Homo sapiens: one gene and its partners. The protein of the gene in region 1 interacts with the protein of each later gene in a biochemical or structural test. Each region holds a gene or a part of one and is shown in the gene's direction. Other genes may lie near its edges.

Region 1 (7,021 bases):
TGTAATCCCAGCACTTTGGGAGGCCAAGATGGGAGGATCGCTTGGGCCCAGGACTTTGAGACCAGCCTGGACAACATAGTGAGTTTTTGTCATCTCTACAAAAACTTGGTAGGCTGGGTGTGGTGGCTCACGCCTGTAACCCCAACACATTGGGAGGCCCAGGCGGGTAGATTGCTTGAGCTCAGCAGTTTGAGACCAGCCTGGGCAACATGGCAAAACCCTATCTCTACCAAAAATACAAAAAATTAGCTGGGCATGGTAGCGCATGCCTGTAGTCCCAGCTACTCTGGATGCTAAGGTTGAAGGATGGCTTGAGCCCAGAAGGTGGAGGTTGCAGTGAGCTGAGACTGAGCCACTGCGTTCCAGCCTGGGAGACAGTGTAAGACCGTGTATAACAAAAAAGAGAGAGAAAAAAAGATGATGCTGGAGGCAGCTTTAGTGGGGAAGTGTAAGCCTGGGAGAGGCTTGGGAGGAGGCTGACATTGCACTGATGCATGGCTCAGGGCAGAAGCCATTGGAATGGGGAACTCCTGGGAGTTACCTTTGGAAGTGGCAAAGATCAGAGAACATGTTTAGGAGGGGAACGTGGATATAGAAAGAGGGCATACATGGCAGAGGGTATTACAGAAGCAAAGGCTGGAGTGTAGGACCCTTTTGTAATCAGAAGAGTCAAAAGGTTTTAAAACAATATGTGGATGTTTGCAATTTATTTTATTTTATTTTTGAGACAGAGTCTCACTTTGTCACCCAGGCTGGAGTACAGTGGCATGATCTCAGCTCACTGCAGCCTCGACTTCCTGGGCTCAAGTGATCCTCCCACCTCAGTCCCCCAAGTAGCTGGGATTACAGGCGTGCGCCACCATGCCCGGCTAAGCTTTGTATTTTTTGTAGAGACGGGTCTCACTATATTGCCCAGGCTGGTCTTGAACTCTTGAACTCAAGCGATGCACTCACCTTGGCCTCCCAAAGTGCTAGGATTATAGACGTGAGCCACTGTGCCCGGTCTGCAATTTATTTTTAAATGGTTTAGAAAAGAAGATTGGTAGATTAAGCTAACAATAGTTGAATCTAGGTGGTGGGTATATGAATGGTCAACTTTTCTGTATGTTTGATAGTTCTCATAATAAATGGATTAAAAAAGCAGCTACTAAATACTGTTTAGGTTTAATAAAAACAACAGGCCGGGCGCGGTGGCTCACGCCTGTAATCCCAGCACTTTGGGAGGCTGAGGCAGGCAGATCACCTGAGGTCAGGAGTTTGAGACCAACCTGGCTAACTTGGTGAAACCCCGTTTCTACTAAAAATACAAAAAATTAGCCGGGCGTGGTGGCACATGCCTGTAATCCCAGCTACTCGGGAGGCTGAGCAGGAGAATCGCTTGAACCTGGGAGGTGGAGGTTACAGTGAGCCAAGATCGCGCTATTGTACTCCAGCTTGGGCAACAAGAGCGAAACTTCGTCTCAAAAAACAAAACAAAACAACAACAACGACAAAACAATACTCAAGGGGTGTGGGCCTTTTGGGCAGAGCAGGAAGATCTGCCTATGACTTCTGCTTACCACTTCCCAGGCCTCCTGTGTCACCTGGATGACGCCTGTGTCAGCAACCCCTGCCACGAGGATGCTATCTGTGACACAAATCCGGTGAACGGCCGGGCCATTTGCACCTGTCCTCCCGGCTTCACGGGTGGGGCATGTGACCAGGATGTGGACGAGTGCTCTATCGGTGAGGGGAGCTCCATCGTCTGTGAATGGGCTGGGAAAGAGGGGAGAGGAGGGGGTCCCGGCCAGCCACGCCCACACCGATCGCACTCCATCCGGCAGGCGCCAACCCCTGCGAGCACTTGGGCAGGTGCGTGAACACGCAGGGCTCCTTCCTGTGCCAGTGCGGTCGTGGCTACACTGGACCTCGCTGTGAGACCGATGTCAACGAGTGTCTGTCGGGGCCCTGCCGAAACCAGGCCACGTGCCTCGACCGCATAGGCCAGTTCACCTGTATCTGTATGGCAGGTGGGTGGTGGGCGTGGCCTGGGCGGGTCCTGAGGCAGGGGGCGGGGACAGAGAAGCCCGCGGATGGGGAGCTGAGCAGAATGGGGTGTAAGTGGGTTTGGAGTGGGACCCTTAGAGACTGAAGCCTGGAAGGAGGTGGGGTCAGGACCAGAAGGGAATACTGTGTGATTCTGGGGGCTTGGTCAAATGGAGTCAGTAGAACCTCAGGTGGGCTGGGAGTATTCTTGGCCTTAGGACCCACTCGGGAAGGGGTTGGGGATAGAGAGGCAGAGTCGGGGCTGCTGTGAGGTCAAGGTGAAGCCTGCAGACAAGCTTGCAGTAAGCCTGGGCAAAGGCTATGGGGGGCCCTGGGGCTGGGGGCTGGGGACTGGGGAAAGGGCTTAGTCTGAGGACTGGGGAGAGGAGGAGGGGTTTGAAGGCAAGGCCTCTGCGGACACCCATGAGCCTTGGGCCAGTTGGGACCACGGCTGGGTGACAGTCCAGCCTGTGGCTGAAAATTAAGGTTGGGCTGGGAGTGTAGAGGTGGGGACGAAGGCTCGGGGGATTTGTCGATGAGTAGGAAGGGAAGTACCTCCTTCCTTGCACCCCGTTCACACCATAGGGTAGCCCCCGCTTTCCTAAGCCCTATTCCCTGCCCCAGGCTTCACAGGAACCTATTGCGAGGTGGACATTGACGAGTGTCAGAGTAGCCCCTGTGTCAACGGTGGGGTCTGCAAGGACCGAGTCAATGGCTTCAGCTGCACCTGCCCCTCGGGTGAGGACCTCAGGAGAGGGAGCCCGAAAAGACATGTCTGGGAAGGGGCAAAAACTCCAGGGTGGGAACCTGTAAAACCACGTTAGCGGATAACTTACAATAGAAACCATATGTTATGAAACATTGAAGTTAATTTAAATCCAAGTAAATGGGTTTTTCCACCCAAACAAGGCGGGGCTGGAGAGGGGTGTACTGCTCTCACCCTTTCTGGGCCTCTGCTCATCCCACTCCCCACCCCAGGCTTCAGCGGCTCCACGTGTCAGCTGGACGTGGACGAATGCGCCAGCACGCCCTGCAGGAATGGCGCCAAATGCGTGGACCAGCCCGATGGCTACGAGTGCCGCTGTGCCGAGGGTGAGGCGGGCCAATGACAGTCCGACAAGAATCAGGAGGCGGGGCTTGTGGGCGACAGGGCCAATAACAGACTTGGGGAGAGCTTGGGGGCGGGGTTGTAGCAAGGCAGGACCCAGTGACAGAGTTGGGGGGTGGAGCCAATAATGCATATAGACTGACATAAGGCTACGTGTGGAGCCAAAGTGTTGGGCTGGGCACAGGGTGCCTGTAACTGAATGGGGAGGGCCCAATACCTTCCCCTGGCACCTGCCATGTGCTCCCATCTCCAGTGGAGGGTGGGGCAGAAACAGGGCTGGAGGTGGGGCCACAGCTGGGGGCGGGATTTAACTGTGGGAGAGTCTTGGCTAGGGACAAATTCTGGAGCTTGTAGTGGGGTGGAGTGGAAGTAAGTGGGGGGTGGGGGGTGGGGCCTGTATTGAGCTCGCCTCCTGACAGCTTGATGGGCAGGGCCTCAGATAGAGCTGAACCAGGATTGGTCCGAGGCCTCACTTGTGGGCAGGCCCCTGGCAAGTGGGCGGAGCCTGACCCTCTTGGCCCCACAGGCTTTGAGGGCACGCTGTGTGATCGCAACGTGGACGACTGCTCCCCTGACCCATGCCACCATGGTCGCTGCGTGGATGGCATCGCCAGCTTCTCATGTGCCTGTGCTCCTGGCTACACGGGCACACGCTGCGAGAGCCAGGTGGACGAATGCCGCAGCCAGCCCTGCCGCCATGGCGGCAAATGCCTAGACCTGGTGGACAAGTACCTCTGCCGCTGCCCTTCTGGGACCACAGGTGGGACCGGGGGCTGGGGCAGAAACAGCACACCTGGAGGGGCACAGAGGGTTTGGGAATGGTGCATCTAGTGGGGCACAGTGGTGGCCACTCCATGCCATGTTCCTGGCCCCTAGGTGTGAACTGCGAAGTGAACATTGACGACTGTGCCAGCAACCCCTGCACCTTTGGAGTCTGCCGTGATGGCATCAACCGCTACGACTGTGTCTGCCAACCTGGCTTCACAGGTGGGCAAGTGGCTGCCATGAGAGGGGGTCCTTAGATCGAGGGTGAAGTCACTCGTCTCTGTGGGCCTGTTTTGCCCGTATCTTTGCAGACTCTTGTCCAACGAGGTTGTCCGTGCTTTGCCCTGAGTCTGTGCTGTCTCATTGGCATAAGGTTGTTTCGAGATTATTCTGCAGGCTGGGCGCGGTGGCTCACGCCTGTAATCCCAGCGCTCTGGGAGGCCAAGGCAAGTGGATCACTTGAGGTCAGGAGTTCGAGACCAGCGTGGCCAACGTTGCGAAGCCCCATCTCTACTAAAAATACAAAAATTAGTCGGGTGTGGTGGTGGGCGCCTGTAGTCCTAGCTACTCGGGAGGCTGAGGCAGGAGAATTGCTTGACCTCAGGAGGCGGAGGCGGCAGTGAGCCAAGATTGTGCCACTGTACTCCAGTCTGGGCGACAGAGTGAGACTTCATTTCAAACACACACACACACACACACACACACACACACACACACACATACAAAAACAAACAAAAAGATTATTCTGGAACATAGATGAAAGTGTCCAAACTCAGTGACTAGGTTATTTCTGAATGGGTCTAAACTAATCCTTAGTGGAAATGAATGTGACTTTGCTAGGTGTGTTGGCTCATGTCTGTAATCCCCCAGCACTTTGGGAGGCTGAGACATGAGGATCACTTGAGCCCAGGAGTTCGAGACTAGCCTGGGCAACATAATGAAACCCTGTCTCTACAAAAAATAAACACACTCCCAAAGCCAGATTAGTCAATACGTAGATAAACACGCACACACATGCACACACAATTAGCCAGACGTGGTGGTGCGCAACTGTAGTCCCAGCCACTCGGGAGGCTGAGGTGGGAGAATCGCTTGAGCCCAGGAAGTGGAGGCTGTGGTGAGCTATGATCATGCCACTGCAGTCCAGCCCGGGCGACAGAGTGAGACCCCATCTCAAAAAATAAGAAGAAGAAGAAAAGAAAAAGAAAGGGACTTCATGGAAGTTTGGGGACCAGAATGATCTGGGGCAAGTCAGCTCTTGGTTGAGGAGGCGGGTGTCCTAATCTGCACAAGAGCTGATGCGTTATGAAAAAGAGGTCATTGCTCGGGGGTGTGGGTGTGCTAAGTGGGGTCACGTCGTCCCTCCCTGGTTGTCCCTGCTGACTTTGTTCTGAGATGAGATTGCTTGTGTACTCCCCAGGGCCCCTTTGTAACGTGGAGATCAATGAGTGTGCTTCCAGCCCATGCGGCGAGGGAGGTTCCTGTGTGGATGGGGAAAATGGCTTCCGCTGCCTCTGCCCGCCTGGCTCCTTGCCCCCACTCTGCCTCCCCCCGAGCCATCCCTGTGCCCATGAGCCCTGCAGTCACGGCATCTGCTATGATGCACCTGGCGGGTGAGGGCCCTTCTCAGCCTCAGACACTGCCCCCTCTCCCTGGCCCACCTCCCTGGCCTGACTACCTTCCCCTGCCAGGTTCCGCTGTGTGTGTGAGCCTGGCTGGAGTGGCCCCCGCTGCAGCCAGAGCCTGGCCCGAGACGCCTGTGAGTCCCAGCCGTGCAGGGCCGGTGGGACATGCAGCAGCGATGGAATGGGTTTCCACTGCACCTGCCCGCCTGGTGTCCAGGGTGTGTACCTCACCTTCCCTCTGCAGCCCCACCAACACCATGGGCCTTCTCATCTCTCTTCTCCTCTACTCTCTCCTCCCGCTATGTTAGCTTCTTTTTTGCTTTCAATCATTTCCCTCCAGGAGCTTGGGAGGTGGGTATCAAGGTGGGGACCCTGGGGTTGGGGGAGGTGGGGGGAGATGGGATCAGGGAGTCCCTCAAGGCTATCTCTGCTTCCCTCTCTTCCACCCCCAACAGGACGTCAGTGTGAACTCCTCTCCCCCTGCACCCCGAACCCCTGTGAGCATGGGGGCCGCTGCGAGTCTGCCCCTGGCCAGCTGCCTGTCTGCTCCTGCCCCCAGGGCTGGCAAGGTATGCCACCTGCTTCTCTTCCCTCCTCCTCTCCATCTCCTCTGCCCCCTACCCTATCAGGGATGATGCTGGGGATCCAGAGAGGGACCCATCCCCAGCCCTGCCTTTGAGAGGGGCTTCCTTCTTGGAAGGACAGAGCTGGACACTGATATGCAGCCTGTGTGGGTCAGCCCTTGGAAGAGGAAGAGTTATGGGGCTAGAGATGCTGGGACTTAGGGCGGGGTTTAGGGTACAGCTTCCTGGAGGAGCAGACCTCATAGTAGGTATTTGCCACCTACTGAGACAGGGAGACGGCCATTCTGAAACTGCATATGCAAAATGCCCAGACACGAATGACAGCACGGCTTATTTTGCCTTCACCCATCTCGGCCTGCAGGTTCTTCCTGAGCCCCAGGTCCCTGAGACCCTGCTCTGTACCCTGTAACCCTAGGTGTAACCTTGCTCCCTACCCCCAGGCCCACGATGCCAGCAGGATGTGGACGAGTGTGCTGGCCCCGCACCCTGTGGCCCTCATGGTATCTGCACCAACCTGGCAGGGAGTTTCAGCTGCACCTGCCATGGAGGGTACACTGGCCCTTCCTGCGATCAGGACATCAATGACTGTGACCCCAGTGAGTGCAGGGGAGCTCTTGGGGGTGCTGCTCTGGGGAACACAGTCATTAAGCTTGAACTGTGTGCCTGGCACTGTGCTGTCATTTCATCTTCACAGTTATCTTACTTTTCCCGTTTTATTTATATGGAAACTGAGGCCCGAGGAGGTTGAGTGACTTCTTGTGCAAGCCCATGGAACGAGTTAGGGAATGAGCTGGGCTTAGAACCTTGGAGTCTGTGTGCTGCCTCTTTTTTTTTTTTTTTTTTTTTTTTTTTTGAGACAGAGTCTTAGCTCTGTCGCTGGAGTGCAGTGTTGCAATCATCGCTCACTGCAACCT
Region 2 (7,021 bases), on another chromosome or scaffold:
AGTCTTATGTTATAGTTCCTGGCTCATAACTCCCATAACCCTTATTACAGTCTTACGTTATAATGTTGGGGTGCTTTAGGCCTCAGGAAAAAGAATCTCTCTCTCTGACCTTCTTTCACCTGCCTTACCTCTAGTCTGATTGTGGGTCAAAAGACTCTCGTTCCAGAGAGGGTCCTGCCCTATGCCCTGGAGGAGGGCATTTAGCACCCAGAGGCCAAGAAGAATCTGAATAGACTGGCCTTGCTGGGTTTCCCCATTCAGTCTGTTAGAGTGAGGGCATACTCTTTTTGTCCAATCACTTTTCTACATGGTTGTCATTCATGCTTATATAAAAGAAGCAAGCCTCCATAAGAACCCAAAAAGGACAGGGTTTGGAGAGCTTCTGGATAGCTGGACATGTGGAGGCTCCTGGAAGGTGGTGTGCCCCTTCCCCCTGTACCTCACCCTACACATCTCTTTATCCATGTCCTTTGTAATACCCTTTATAATAAATCCGTAAATATAAGTAAGTGTTTCCCTGAATTTTGTGAGCTGCTGCAGCAAGTTAAACCCAAAGAGGGGGACATGGGAACCCCAATTTGAAGCCAGTTGGTCAGAAGTTCTGGAGGCCTAGACTTGCAACGGTGGAGGGTGGGGTCTTGGGGACTGAGCTTTCAACTTGTGGGATCTGATACCGTCTCCAGGTGTAGGGAGTGTTGGAACTGAGTTGGGGGATACTTAGCTGCAAATCCCCCACATATTTGGTCACAGCCTTCTGTGTTGTTACAGTGTGAGAGCAGAGGAAAAACACAGTGTGAGAGTTTTTTCTAAAACACAGGCTAATGTTTATTCATTTAATGTACACGGACTATGTGCCAGGCCCCATGTCGTTGTTACTATTATCACCATTCTACAGATAGGGAAATTGAGGCTTAGAAGCTTAAATGACTTGTCCAAAGTCACACAACTAGAGAGTAGTAAACTCCAAATTTGAACCCAGGAAGACTGGCTCTCCAGGCTCTAATACTTTATGCCTGAATTTTCTTAAATATATCACATTTCAAAATATAGAAATGATATATGGATGAATAGATGAGCTTCCTCTAAGAGATAAAAATTCAATCTAAATTGGCCTTTAATTCAGTGGATATTGAACACCCACTATGTGTTAGGTATTGGGTAGCTCCTAGAAAGCTCAAGATGGTAATGAAGATGTTTGGGGGATGGGTTTTGGAGACTGGCAGAGGGGAAAATGATAGGACTGGGAGATTGGCTTTTCATATGTTTCCCAAAACTTATAACACAGTGGCTCCTTCTGCCTTCCTGTCAGCCTTTCACTGTGGCTTAACCTGCACCCAGGTAGTGAAGGGATGGGGTTGGGGGTGATAGGGATCATTCGTCTGGCTTAAAGTTTCATGTTAGGGTGTGCCAGTGTTCTAGGAGTCACAAAACAAGATGGCATCATAGTTAATACTGTGTGACAGCCTGTAATTTAAAAGAACACTTCATATATGTTATTTGAAACTTTAAGAACCCTTCGAGTTAGGTGGAGGGCACATACTCTCTCTCCTAGAAATGAGGGAAGTGAGGTCCAATTAGGATGAAGTGGCTTGCCTGAGGACATGCTACTGAAAAGTGGCTCTTCACACTAAAAACACTAGTCCCTTCTTTTACACCAAAATGTCTTGACAGTAAATGTAATTTAACATTTTGGTGATTAGGAAAACACTTCAGAATTTTACATTGCCTAAAAGTGATCATTATAGCATTCTTTTGATATAGGAGTATGGAATAAGAGACAGAACTATGAGTTTTAAGAACCTGTTTTAGGCCAGGCGTGGTGGCTCACTCCTGTAATCCCAGCACTTTGGGAGGCTGAGGTGGGCAGATCACCTGAGGTCAGGAGTTTGAGACCAGCCTGTCCAACATGGTGAAAACCATCTCTAATAAAAAATTCAAAAGTTAGCCAGACGTGGTGGCGCATGTCTGTAGTCCTAGCCACTCGGGAGGCTGAGGCAGGAGAATCACTTGAACCCTGGAGGTGGAGGTTGCAGTGAGCTGAGATCACACCACTGCACTCCGGCCTGGACGACAGAGTGAGACTCCATCTCAAAAAAAACAAACCTGTTTTAGAAATTATTTCTTTCAAATCATGGTATGAGCATTTGCCATTTTCCCTCCTTTTTATGAAAGCACAAATTTTCATCATTAATAAATAAGCCCACATTCATAATGGTAAGAATATAATAGCTATTAATACTATAAATATATGCCAGTGCCAATTCTAGACACATTATACATATTAACTTGTGTGTGTGTGTAATTTTTTTAGTCAGTGCTATCAGTCACTGTTAAACTCTACCTGCTTTACTTCATTTAGTCACAAGCACTGTTCCCTTATCATCCCTGTTTCATAGGCGACTGACCCATTTGCACAGCTAGTAGTGGCAGTGCTGGCGCAGTTTTCACTGCATACTCTATTAGCTGACATATTAATAGTAGCCACAGTTTGCGCAAAATTGCTGTTGTACTCCTCCTAAGTCTCCCAGCAGTTTGCCGTTTCGATACTGAGACTGCAGAGGTTTGTGAGGTGCCCAAGACCTGGGTACTAGCTGAGGATGCATGCGCTCCGGTTTTGTCTTCCTACTGAGTACTCTGACTAAAATTTCTTTTTGTCAAAGCCTACTTAGTTGTGATTTCATGCAGGGAGTTTTCCAGGAGCACAGCCCAGGCCAGCCTTGATGTGAGGAAAAGTTCTTTCCCAATTTGGACGTGTAGCTGCTTCCGGGATCTGTTAGTAAAAACAGAACTGCCCTTCTCCGCCAGAAGTGTTGCCAGATGAGATATTAAGAAACATGAAGGATAAAGTGAGATGGTCCAACATTTCTCTAACCAGAGTTCCAGACGAAAATAACAGAAGGGGAGACAGGGAATATTCAAAGATACAACAGCCAAGAATTTTCTAGAACTAATGGAAAAATTGTAGACAAAAGACGTGTATATGAGTTTAAGGATAGCAATAGCTGACAAACAGTACAAACGTTACTTAAACTAAGTAGAGATCTAGGTTCAGCTTTTTAAAAGAAAAAATGTAAAATATGAGGTAGACATATTTTAGACTGTAGAGTAAATGGATGTACCAGGGCCAAAAGGAGCATGAATTGCCTTAAGGGAGAGGAAGGGGGAAGCTAAGGAAACAATTCCTGCTGAAGCAATTGGGTTTTGAAAAAGGTGATCCCAGTAGACAAGGGTCAGGGAGAAAGAATGCTACCTGAAGAGGGAATAGGACATGAAAAGCCCATGTTGCCAAATAAACCCTGAGATCTTTACATTTTGAAGAATGACATTTTACCCTTGCATGAAATGAAAAAGGTATACATAAAAATGTATATAAGAAGTTCTATAAATGATGAAATCTGGTTTTCACAGGGATAATGCCCTGGTAATTTCTATTATGTATTAAAAAAAGCCTTGTGGGATGGGGGTGGGGGAGGGTCCCTAAAACACAAACTTTAGCAGTTCCACCTAACTATTTGGTCTCATTTAATGATAAAATATTTTCGTCATATGACAGGCTTATTATATTTTTTCTAGAATGTCTTTTTTATCTATTTTGTTAAGAACATGAACTTACTGCTGTAACTCATAAATGAAACCTTCCTTTTCAGAATAGCATTGTTCTCTCTTATCATCTTACAATTGAATACAAACCGAAAAGGTGTTGAAAAATTAATCTCTTCTTTCAGCATCTTCTCATTTATCAATCACATGATTCACCTGTGTCATTTGTCTAAATATTGGAGTCATGGTTTGTGCTTTTAGCATAAATATTTAGTGCCAACTCCGTCTCTTTCCTATGTTCTGGGCCCTAGTTTATCTTTCTGAGAGATTGCTAATGTAAAATGTTTAAGTAAATACTGAATGGTCCTGGAATAGGGCCTGATACTTGCATTACTATTAGTTAGTAGAATATTTGTATTTTGATTGTGTTCTCTAGCCAAATTTGTCACATGCGATTCTTCCCAGTTCTTTGCTTTTACTGGCTCTTATAAACACACTTTGACATATATTTAATATCTTGAAGAATAAAGATATCCTGTGATTTTACAGCCTGTCAGTACTATTTTGGGGTATAACAGGTGGGTAACCGAAGGGGAAAAGGCATGTGTGTGCTTAGGGCAGGGAGAGGATCCTTTTATGGAATTGAACGTGCTAAAACATTGGTGAAGTTGTTCTTTCTGTGCACACTTAAGACAGCAGTTAGGATTAGATCTTTCATGAACTTGTATTTCTAAGACCATCCAAATACTGGGAATAGGTCTGTCACTTTCATTTTGCAAAAGTTGGCATCTTAGTTACTGTAATTCATAATAACAACGTTCCCTGGAAGTATAGAACATGTTAAATATACAATATATATTTCTTTATTTTGCCCTTATTCCACAGCTTAGTTTTTTAGTGACTGGGTATATTCATGTGTGTGTATAGTGTGAGTGCATGTGTGTGCAATTGAGTGAAGTGGGAAAGTAGTGCTTCTATAGTTTGATCAGGGCTTTACACAAAAAAGCCACAGAGATTTTCCCTTAAATTTGGGAAAAGACAAAGATACCCCCATGATTGCCACTGTTTAATACAGTACTGAAGGACCTTTTCTTAAAAAAAAAAAAGTAATAGGATTGGGAAGGAAGAAATAAAAACTGCAGATGATATGGATATGATTATTAACCTAGAAGAACCAACAGAATCAACAGACTGAACACTAAAATGAATACATGTAAATCAAGGTTGCCAGTGACAAGATAAACCTACAAAAACAGCACTTCTCAAACCAGTAAAAATCAAGTAGAAAATACAAATTCACAATAGCAGCAATATCCACGAAGACTACTATGAAGAATACATGGGAACTCTATAGATCTGAATAAATGAAGAGACATATATCATGCCTTTAAACAGAGAGATGTTATAAAGATGTCTAATTTCTCTTGTTTTTTGAGAAACACAATAAACTTACCCTAGAATTTATATGGAAAAGTTGGAGAAGTAAAAGTCCATAAATAGCTAAGTTATCTTTAAAGAAGATTGAGGGACCTGCTCTATCAAATATTAAAGTGTAGTACAAGGCTAGTGCTATTAAAAAAAAAAACCCAAAACTTGGCACTGGTATAAGAACAGTTAAATACACTAATGCATGGCATAGAGATTTTAGAGATAAATAGCGAATATACATTCGCTAGGGGAAAGATGGATTGCTTGGTAAATAATGTTGGGGAAAATGGCTATTTGGAAGAAAAAAACAAAACATTCTTACCTAACTGCATGCAGGGGTTGATGCTAGGTGGATTAAAGACATAAATATAAGGAAGGTAGAACTATAAAGTTAATAAGAGAAAATATAGGAAAATAGGACCAAAGGGTGGGGGAAGACCTTAGGTCAAAACTTCAAAAGCATACGCCATAAGGCAAAAAAAAAAAAAAAATTGATCGCATCAAAATAAGAGTCTCTCTTTAGTGCAAGACATCCCAGACGTGGTTCATATATGAGAGGATGAGAGATGGTTGCAATGTCTGTAACCAACAAGAATCTCTTGAGTATACAAATCAACAAGGGAACAGTAACTCCTGTTTAAAAATAGAAAAGCAAAATAGGAAAAGTCTATGAATAGGCTAACAAGGATACAAAGAGATGTCTGAAATTATTAGGAAAACACAAGTTAACACTGACATATCAGTGTATTTCTGTCACACTGGCAGCAAATAGAAAGTTGGAAAATGCAGAATGTTGGTAGGGATATGGGGACCCCTGTGCTTTGCTGTGGAGAGTGGATAGGTACAGGTGTTCTGCAGAATAGTCATAATACTAAGTCAAAAGCAGAGTACACATACCCTTTGTCTTAGCAGTTCTGTCCTGGTATATGTCCTAAGGAAATCCTCACCAAGGTCCAAAGGGGAGATGTATTCATAGAAGTGTTATTTGTAGTAATGAGAAGCTGGTAGACAACCTAAGTGTCCATCTCTGGGAGAGTGGAGAGGGAAAATCAGGTAGGTATACACATGGAGTATTATACAGCAATTAGCAGCAACTGATTAGAAGTACACATAGGGGGCTGGGTGTGGTGGCTCACACCTGTAATCCCAGCACTTTGGGAGGCTGCGGTGGGCAGATCACTTGAGGCCAGCAGTTTGAGACCAGCCTGGCCAACATGGTGAAACCCCAGGAGTTTGAGACCAGCCTGGCCAACATGGTGAAACCCCGTCTCTACTAAAACTACAGAAATTAGCCGGGCCTGGAGGCTGAGGCACGAGAATCACTTGAAAGCGGGAGGTGGAGGCTGCGGTGAGATTGTGCCACTGTGCTCCAACCTGGGTGACAAAGCAAGACTGTCTCAAAAACAAAAAACAAACAAAAATCTAGCAACCTGGATGCTAAGTGAAAAAATAAAAACAGAATGAGATATAAATTCAAAATATACAAATAATACAGATCTTGTAAAAAACAAATAGTATTAATTAGATAAACACGAAAGAATGATTGCCTTATGAGCTGGGAGGAAAATGGGAGAAAGGCAAGTGTATAGAAAAATGAAAGAATTTTAAAGCAGAAATGAAGAATTTTTGAAAAGTTTGGTGATCTTTAAACTTGATTTGGGTTGAATGAGAGATAAAGAAAATTAATAGGAAGAACATCCTGCATACAATAACCGTTTTGTTTTCCCAATTTCTATAGGGTTGAAGCTTTGAGAGAAGCAGCAACTGCTGTTGAGCAAGAGAAAGAAATCCTTCTGGAAATGATCCACAGTATCCAAAATAGCCAGGACATGAGGCAGATCAGTGACGGTGAGAGCCATCTCCACAGAAGGGGCTCATCTTTTACACTCCTTTAAAGAGTTTATGATAAGTGTGGGTCAATTTTTGCTTGACTTTTGGTATGCGTACACCAGGCCACAGCATTTAATGTGAGCCACAGAGAGCAGCTGCAGCTGTCAGTTCATTACAGCAGCCACTTACTCAGAGATTTCTTCCAGCATGCTCTCTACCCCAA
Region 3 (7,374 bases), on another chromosome or scaffold:
CTTCAGCTGGCAGATTACAGGGCTCTGACTCCTTGTGGGTGTGGGGCTTGGGCAAAGGGATGCCTTCCTATCCAGTGGCCCCCTTCCCCTTCCATCCCTGACACCCCATTGACTTGTGCTAACAGCTCTTTGCCCCACAGGTGTGACAAGCCCCGCCAAGACAGACCTGCAAGTCTTCGTCTCAAGGGACCTCCCTCATGCCAGGCCCCTGCCTCTCACAGCAGCACCCTTTCCTCTCATTGTCCCTGTTCCCTTTTTGCCTGTGGATCTGTTTGGCCAGGGTCCCTGGGGTCAGGAATATTTGCAAGACTCAGCCAGCTCCTTCCCAGCCCAGCCTCTTGGGGCTGGGACTTTCTCACCCTGCGGCAGGCACAACAGATGCTGGGACCCAGTCTCTGCCCAGGTCACAGCACAAGTGCACATCAGCACTATGGGGCCTATGTCCTGCCCAGAGACCTCTGCTCCTTCCTGCTCACATCCACAGTCAGGGCACGGCGCCCCTCAAGAACTCCAGAGTCACCTGTCTCATCGGCTCCCAGCAAGTGCCTCTTTGTCTATGATGTCCCCCTTCTCTGAGGCCTGGACCCACCCATCTTTGTCCCTGGGGCCTGCTCCCAGCCACTGAGGCCCGCTCTGGCCAGGGGAGAAGGAGCTGCCGTGCGTCTTCCCTGTGCCCCGTCTCCCTGCTTGGTTCTCCCCTCCCTTCCCTGGCCGGCTGCCATGGCCAGGAGCTAAGTGCCTTTTTGTGTGCAACCACTTACCCTTTCTCTGAAAAACCTGTTCTCAGGAAGGATCTGATAAACTCATTTACTCTCAGGTGTAAGAGACTGATGAGACCTTAGAAGCGAATTCCTCTCTGGAGGCCTTGCTTTCTAGCAGAGGTCACCTGAAGTGTGTGAGGAGGATCATCATTTTCCTCATCCCCCCTCTTCTCACATTAAGGTGGTGGCTTGCCACTCAGCAGTCCTAGCTTGGTGACTGGGAACTGCCACATACAGGGCCAGGCCTACCCTCCTTCCCCACAAGCCCCCTCCAACCCCCACCCCCATGCTCTGGACCTCATGGCTCCTATGAGCTTGGAGCATGGTGAACCATCAGAGAATCTAGAACCAACCAAGCTAGGAACATCAGCCTGGTGCCCTGTTAACCCCTTAAAGCTGTGGTTTACAACTTTTCAAAAATTTAAATCATTAGAACTCTCCATCTTGATTGACTGCCCTAGTTTTACCCAGAATCAGCTGGGGATGTGGCCAGGTGCAGAGCCCCCTGCCCATTCCCCCTTTGCATGCCTGGGGAAGCTCCAGGTCTTTTTGGAACACGACCCTTAACACGGCTCCTAAGGGGGTATCACCAGTCCAGTTCCCCAAGTGTGTGGGGGATGAGCCCTAGCCCTACTCTGTGACTCTGGGTGAGGGCTCCTCAGATCTGTGCCCCAGGGGACAGGCCCTCAAAGTGCCATCCGTGCTCAGGTCCCAGTGCCCCAGGCTGACCCACCTCTGGTCAGTGAGTCTCCTGTGCCTGAGTGAGGGATATCGGGACCTGGGGTCCCTGCCCCGAGCACCTCCCACCCACTGCTAGTGCTGGGGCTTTGTGAGTGTTCCAACTTCATAGCCGAGAGTTGGAGGACAAGGCTGGGGCAGGGCCGAGGAACGGATTGAGTCCTGCCTAAGCCTCGGGACATCTAAACAGCTCTGGCTCTGCCCAGACCTCAGGTGTGACCCTGAGCCATTTTCCTTCTCTGAACTTCAAGCAGATGACCTCAGAGAACTTTCATATGTTCATGCCATGATAGGTGAACTTTTCCAGTAAACAAAACTGTCCCCACACAGAGGAGAGGCTCCTGGAGGCCTTCACCTGGCAGGGCCTGACCGTGGAGTAAGAGCCTAGGAAGACACTGAGGGGCCTGTTCCTGCAGCTGCAGCCTCAGCAGGGCCCTTCATGCCTGCACCCCCCTCCCCTGGGGTGCCCAGTGAGGGCTGACTGCTAGGGGAAATGTCGGGGTGCTACAGCACAGCCCCCTCCCCTGTGAATCCAGCACGTGAGGGCCCTGCCCTCGTTCCTACTGGGGACGCAGCCAGTAAACAAGGAGACCAGGGTGTGCCCAAGATGACCTCAGCTGGGGATAGATGAGTGGTAGCGACTGGGTGTCCAGGCGGGTGGGGAGGCCTCTGGATGGGTGACATTGGGCACCTTCTGGAGACAGAACAGGGCTCCCACACACCACTCCGGGCTGCACCCTCCTGCTGTCTTGCCACAGGGGCCCTGTGCCCCACAAGTGGCCCGTCCTATTGTGGATCCTCAAATTTACATGCACTGTTTCAGCATAAGCCTCCCATTCCACTCTGGCTTTGTTTTCTCTTTACATCCCTTTGAAAGGACAGGGATATAAAAAAAAAATGGGCTAAGAGTAACCCTACTATGCCCAGGAGTGGCTGCTGCATGGGGGCTGGATTTCCTTATCTGAGAGGCTGTCTCACAGCGCTCTGAACGAAGCTCCTGCCTTAGAACAATTCGAAGCCATACACGTGTGGCCTGTGACACCAAGGATCTACTGGGCTTTTCCCATGGGGCTCAGTAGTGACCTAGGTGCCCAGATCCCTCTTCTAGGCATCCATGCAAATAAACCGTGGTCTGTTTGAAAGGTTATTGGGCTTACAAGGAACAGTAACCCACCCTCAAGTTAAAAAAGGGTTTGGGAAAAGTAATTCCGAATTCTACGTTACTCCAGGCCAGGACCCAAGGCAAGGCTGGGCCCTGCTTCGTGGGCTAGAATGGGAGAGAGAGATGATGGGGCTCCCCCCACTTTCTTGACAGCCTGACTCCTTCCTCACTATCCCTCGGGAATCTGTCCCCTCCATCTGCCTGTCTCTCTACAAAGTGCCCCTGCTTCCCTGTGGTGGTCCTCAGTCCCACAATGCTGGCCAGCGGGCGGTTGGCTTCAGCTTGCCCTGCCACAGATGTGCTGGCAGTGTGGAGGCCCACGTGGCAGGGCAATCAAGGCCACTGGACTCAGAGGCCACAGGGAACTATGGAGGGGATGGAGTCAGCTGAGTGATGGGACAAGAGTCTGACAGCAGCATGGGTGTGGAGCAAATGGCAGTCCCCTGCGCAGAGGACCCTTTCAAGGACATTAGTGGTGGAGGCAGCATAGTAGCTCCCAAGGCAGAGGGATTGAGAGAAGAGTTTGAGGACTGGGAAGGCGGGACACATGATTGGGTGATGGGAGAAGGGGGCAGAGAATAGCGAGATTGCTTTCTTTGCCCACGGAGAAACAGAGGAGTGTGGATCATGAATGGGCAAGATCTTTAAGTGCCAGGGGGGGTCATGGAGGAGGGGAGGGCCTGCTCCAGAGGAGGACCATTCCTGCTTCAGAGCCAAGCAGGACCTAGGCTGTGAAGATTCGGAGAAAGAGATGGAGGGGAGAGTCAGCTCAGCTGCTTACTGGCTTGCTTTCCTCCTGTCTCTTTCATTTTCATAATCTACCAAACCCTGCAATGGGCCAGCCTTGAACATACAAGTGCATGTGCATGGTCAGACACAGGCAAGCAAGCAAGACCCCTAGGCCTGACCTATGCATCTGCAATCTAGTAGGTTTAGCAGATCATAGCCCCGCACTGCTTGATTTTAAAGCCGTTAGGGGATGACCTTTGACAGTCCGCATCACCCCTCTCACACAACGAGCGCCTGTTCAAGGTTCTTGACTGGAAGTTCTACCTTGTATCTGGCCTCCTGTAGCAGTTTCAGTCCATTCCCTGTGAGGAGGGTGTGCCACATGGCTTTGGGGGTCATGGAGAAGACCCACCTTGCAGATGTCCTCACTGGGGCTGGCAGAGCCGGCAACCTGCCTAAGGCTGCTCAGTCCATTAGGAGCCAGTAGCCTGGAAGATGTCTTTACCCCCAGCATCAGTTCAAGTGGAGCAGCACATAACTCTTGCCCTCTGCCTTCCAAGATTCTGGTGCTGAGACTTATGGAGTGTCTTGGAGGTTGCCTTCTGCCCCCCAACCCTGCTCCCAGCTGGCCCTCCCAGGCCTGGGTTGCTGGCCTCTGCTTTATCAGGATTCTCAAGAGGGACAGCTGGTTTATGTTGCATGACTGTTCCCTGCATATCTGCTCTGGTTTTAAATAGCTTATCTGAGCAGCTGGAGGACCACATGGGCTTATATGGCGTGGGGTACATGTTCCTGTAGCCTTGTCCCTGGCACCTGCCAAAATAGCAGCCAACACCCCCCACCCCCACCGCCATCCCCCTGCCCCACCCGTCCCCTGTCGCACATTCCTCCCTCCGCAGGGCTGGCTCACCAGGCCCCAGCCCACATGCCTGCTTAAAGCCCTCTCCATCCTCTGCCTCACCCAGTCCCCGCTGAGACTGAGCAGACGCCTCCAGGATCTGTCGGCAGCTGCTGTTCTGAGGTAAGGCTCGGGCAGGGCTCTGGGGAAGAGGAGAGCAGAGAATGGACGGGGAGATGTGAGGGTCTTGGGCCCTGGCATATTTACCCAGAGTCTGCCTGTGTCCGCAGAAGTCCATGGCCCCTCCTGGTGGAGGCCACACTTCAGAGGACAGGTTGCCAGGTCTGGGCTCCAAGATTGGTACAATAGAGCAGAGAGAAAGAGAGAATCCCATGGTAGCCATTGGAGACTAGGGTTGGAGTCCTGGACCTGCCACTAAAGATGTAGAGTTTAAACTCTTGGATGAGTCACTTTCCCTCCCCAGGCCTCAGTTTTCTCATCTGTAGAGTGGGCTAAATATTTGCTAGGCCTCTGCCTGCTCTAAATACAATGAGGCTCTAACCAACAGAGACTCCCCTAAATTGCTTGTTCCAGGCCGAGGGTCACCTATACCTTTCCAGTCAGGTCCTTCTTGAGTCCCAGGGAGCAGAGCGAGACTGCAGCCCTGTCAGTCAAGTGAGTCTCCTGGTCATATTCTCAAGGCTAGGAACTCAGAAACTGTCCTGGAAGTACTGAGAACGACCAGATGTGCAGGGTCCTCTGCAGCGCCTCTCCAGGCCAACGCGGGAATTCCATTTGATGCCGCTGACTCAGTGCCATTCCCTCCCAGAGCTGAGCTGAGCTCCCAGACCCTGAGCTGAGCTGCACTTGGGGGGCAGATGGGGAAAGGCCCCACTGGGAGAACCTGTCCTTGGGTGTGAGCCCAGCTGGTTGGCATTAAAGGGTTTAACCTGGGCCCCCGTAAGTGTAACCCTTGTCCCATCCCACCCCAACACCCCATCTTGGGACAAGCCTTGCTCTGTGCCCAGGAGTGGTAGAGAAAGATTCCCTTGGTTTCTAGTTTCTCCTGGGCAGGCTGAGGACTATTCAGGGAGGGGGTTGCCTGGTGTGTAAGGAATTTCAGAGCACATTCCTGGCCTGCTGTAGCCGGGAAGCTACCTGCCCTCCCAAATTCCTTTTCTGACCCATGTCTTAGAGGGCGAATCTTCCTTCTCTCTGCAAAAGTGGAATCTGAGAGGATCAGGTTGCTGGCTGCCTCCTATTTCTGACCCCCACTTCCACTCTTCCTGCCCTCTCCCCATCCCCTTACCCCCGCTCTCCTGGTGGGCTAACAGCTGTTGGCTTAGGAAAATCCCATTCGAGTGCTGGGGACAAGGACTGAGGGGTGGGGCCTGTGTTTCTCAGAAACTCGGAGACTGTTTCTACAGGGACAGAACTCAAGGCTCTCCTGCTTTGTAGTTGGTTAACTGAAGTCAGAGAGGCTAGGTGACTTAAATAAGGCCACACAGCAAAATCTGGGTTTTAAGCCCAGATTTTTTGACCCCAAGGTCAGTATGCCTTATGCCTTCTATTGTCTTTGCTTTACTCCCCAAGAAAGGTGACCCTGTGAACGTGTTAGGCTTCCAACACGTGTTGGCTATGAATGCATTAGGCTAGAAAGCTGCCTGTGGAAGTGGGTGGGACTTGGGTGTGAGGACACAGGTGTTTCAGGACATTCTGGTTCCTTGCCCTGCCAGGTTCTTGACTCTCTCCCATTCTGCAGCCCCCAGTCTCAGCCCACCTCTTTCCCCTGCATCAGGTCCTGCCTTTGAGCCACTGGCATGGTGGTGTCCTCTGGGCTGGCTGAAAGCCCTCCTCCATCCTGCATGTCTGCATGCTATTTTTGGGAGCTGGATGGTGCCCCCAGGAACAGGGAGAGGAGTCCAAGCTGCTCTGTCCTCCTGTGAGGCCCCAGCACCATGCCCAGTGGCTCTGAACTGGTGGAAGGGCAGAGTAGGAGAGGAGAGAGAAAGCTAGAAGCTATGCGCCCAGGCTGGCCATGCACGGTTCCTCTGAGAATTTTCTCCCTCCCACTGAGGGACAAGCTTCTCCTGGGGCTCAGGTAGGAGCTCCTCAAGTTCTCAAGTCACTAGTTCTGGCCGCTCCCCTGGGGCTTTGGGTAACAATTGTCAGCCCCACCCATCCTAGGGTTAGGAAGGCTATTCTCTTTGGCCACTCTCATCCTAAGACCTATTTGGAGAACCTCTGGGGTTTGAGTCTTTTTTTCAGCAGAATGAGGCTTGATCCCGCATTATAGCACCTCGCACATTTGATGTCTCTTCTTCTCACCCACTCACCCCACCCTGGGGGTTGGGGCAAAAAAGTGGCTCAGAGCTGCGGTTCAGAGCTCCTTGTAAACAAGGCTCCTCCCTCACTGTCCTCACCCTGCTCCAGCAGAGGGAGCAGCGGAAGGACCACTCTGCTGCAGCCATGCTTGTTTCTAACCCAGCAGAACTGGACATAATGGGAACAGGGTCTGAAGACAATCAATCCAGGGCTGCAGTGGGTGCTGAGTCTGGGGAAGCCTCCACCTGGAGGGGCAGCTGGGCAGTGGCAGCTCCCTTGGAATGGCTCAGCCTCTGGACATCACCCCACCCAACCAGAGCCCTGGCTCTTGCTGGATGTCCACAGATGAGTGCCTGGGATTGGTCTCAGCCACTATGGGGGGGATGTGCAGGGAGAGGTGATGAGGGAGTGAGCAGGACTGTCTATGTGCCTCTGTCCTCATCCTGAGGCTTGGGTCTGAAATTGGTGCTGCAGCACTGGCACGCGTGAGTGGGGCAGGAGGTGGGCAGCAGGGGAGGAGCATTGGAGGGTGGTCCTGAGCATCATTTGGATTCTTCTCCCGCCTCACTTTAGCCTCACTCTCACATCACCCTGTCCATTCTCTCCCTTGGAAGCCAACATCAGGAAGGCTGTGGAGCTGGCATATTGCACTATAACAGAGGCTGCTGTTCACGTTTCAAACAACGTGATTGTGTCCCTGGAGCAGTGCACTGTCATGGCCCCGGAGGGTTGGGTCATAGTAGTTATTAGCTGAATGCCTACACTTCACACTACCTCTGTTCCTCACACCTACCCAAGAAGAGCAGTAATTTCACAGCAAA

Evidence for each region. Proteins that work in one complex are often made in the same cells at the same time.
Region 2: the proteins of NOTCH3 (region 1) and BAG2 form a complex in vitro, tested with the Homo sapiens proteins (one study listed by BioGRID).
Region 3: the proteins of NOTCH3 (region 1) and TNNT2 form a complex in vitro, tested with the Homo sapiens proteins (one study listed by BioGRID).

Annotation. Positions count from the first base shown.
Region 1 is NC_000019.10:15,183,977-15,190,997, reverse strand, and holds part of NOTCH3 (neurogenic locus notch homolog protein 3 precursor), read left to right. Parts: intron 1-1,569; coding exon 1,570-1,725; intron 1,726-1,823; coding exon 1,824-2,009; intron 2,010-2,649; coding exon 2,650-2,763; intron 2,764-3,003; coding exon 3,004-3,117; intron 3,118-3,659; coding exon 3,660-3,893; intron 3,894-4,009; coding exon 4,010-4,120; intron 4,121-5,318; coding exon 5,319-5,511; intron 5,512-5,589; coding exon 5,590-5,741; intron 5,742-5,978; coding exon 5,979-6,092; intron 6,093-6,547; coding exon 6,548-6,703; intron 6,704-7,021. UniProt on the Homo sapiens protein: Functions as a receptor for membrane-bound ligands Jagged1, Jagged2 and Delta1 to regulate cell-fate determination.
Region 2 is NC_000006.12:57,175,326-57,182,346, forward strand, and holds part of BAG2 (BAG family molecular chaperone regulator 2), read left to right. Parts: intron 1-6,706; coding exon 6,707-6,816; intron 6,817-7,021. UniProt on the Homo sapiens protein: Co-chaperone for HSP70 and HSC70 chaperone proteins. Acts as a nucleotide-exchange factor (NEF) promoting the release of ADP from the HSP70 and HSC70 proteins thereby triggering client/substrate protein release.
Region 3 is NC_000001.11:201,374,660-201,382,033, reverse strand, and holds the start of TNNT2 (troponin T, cardiac muscle), read left to right. Parts: upstream 1-4,353; 5' UTR 4,354-4,411; intron 4,412-7,374. Other genes in the region: LAD1 (ladinin-1), read left to right, coding at 141-146. UniProt on the Homo sapiens protein: Troponin T is the tropomyosin-binding subunit of troponin, the thin filament regulatory complex which confers calcium-sensitivity to striated muscle actomyosin ATPase activity.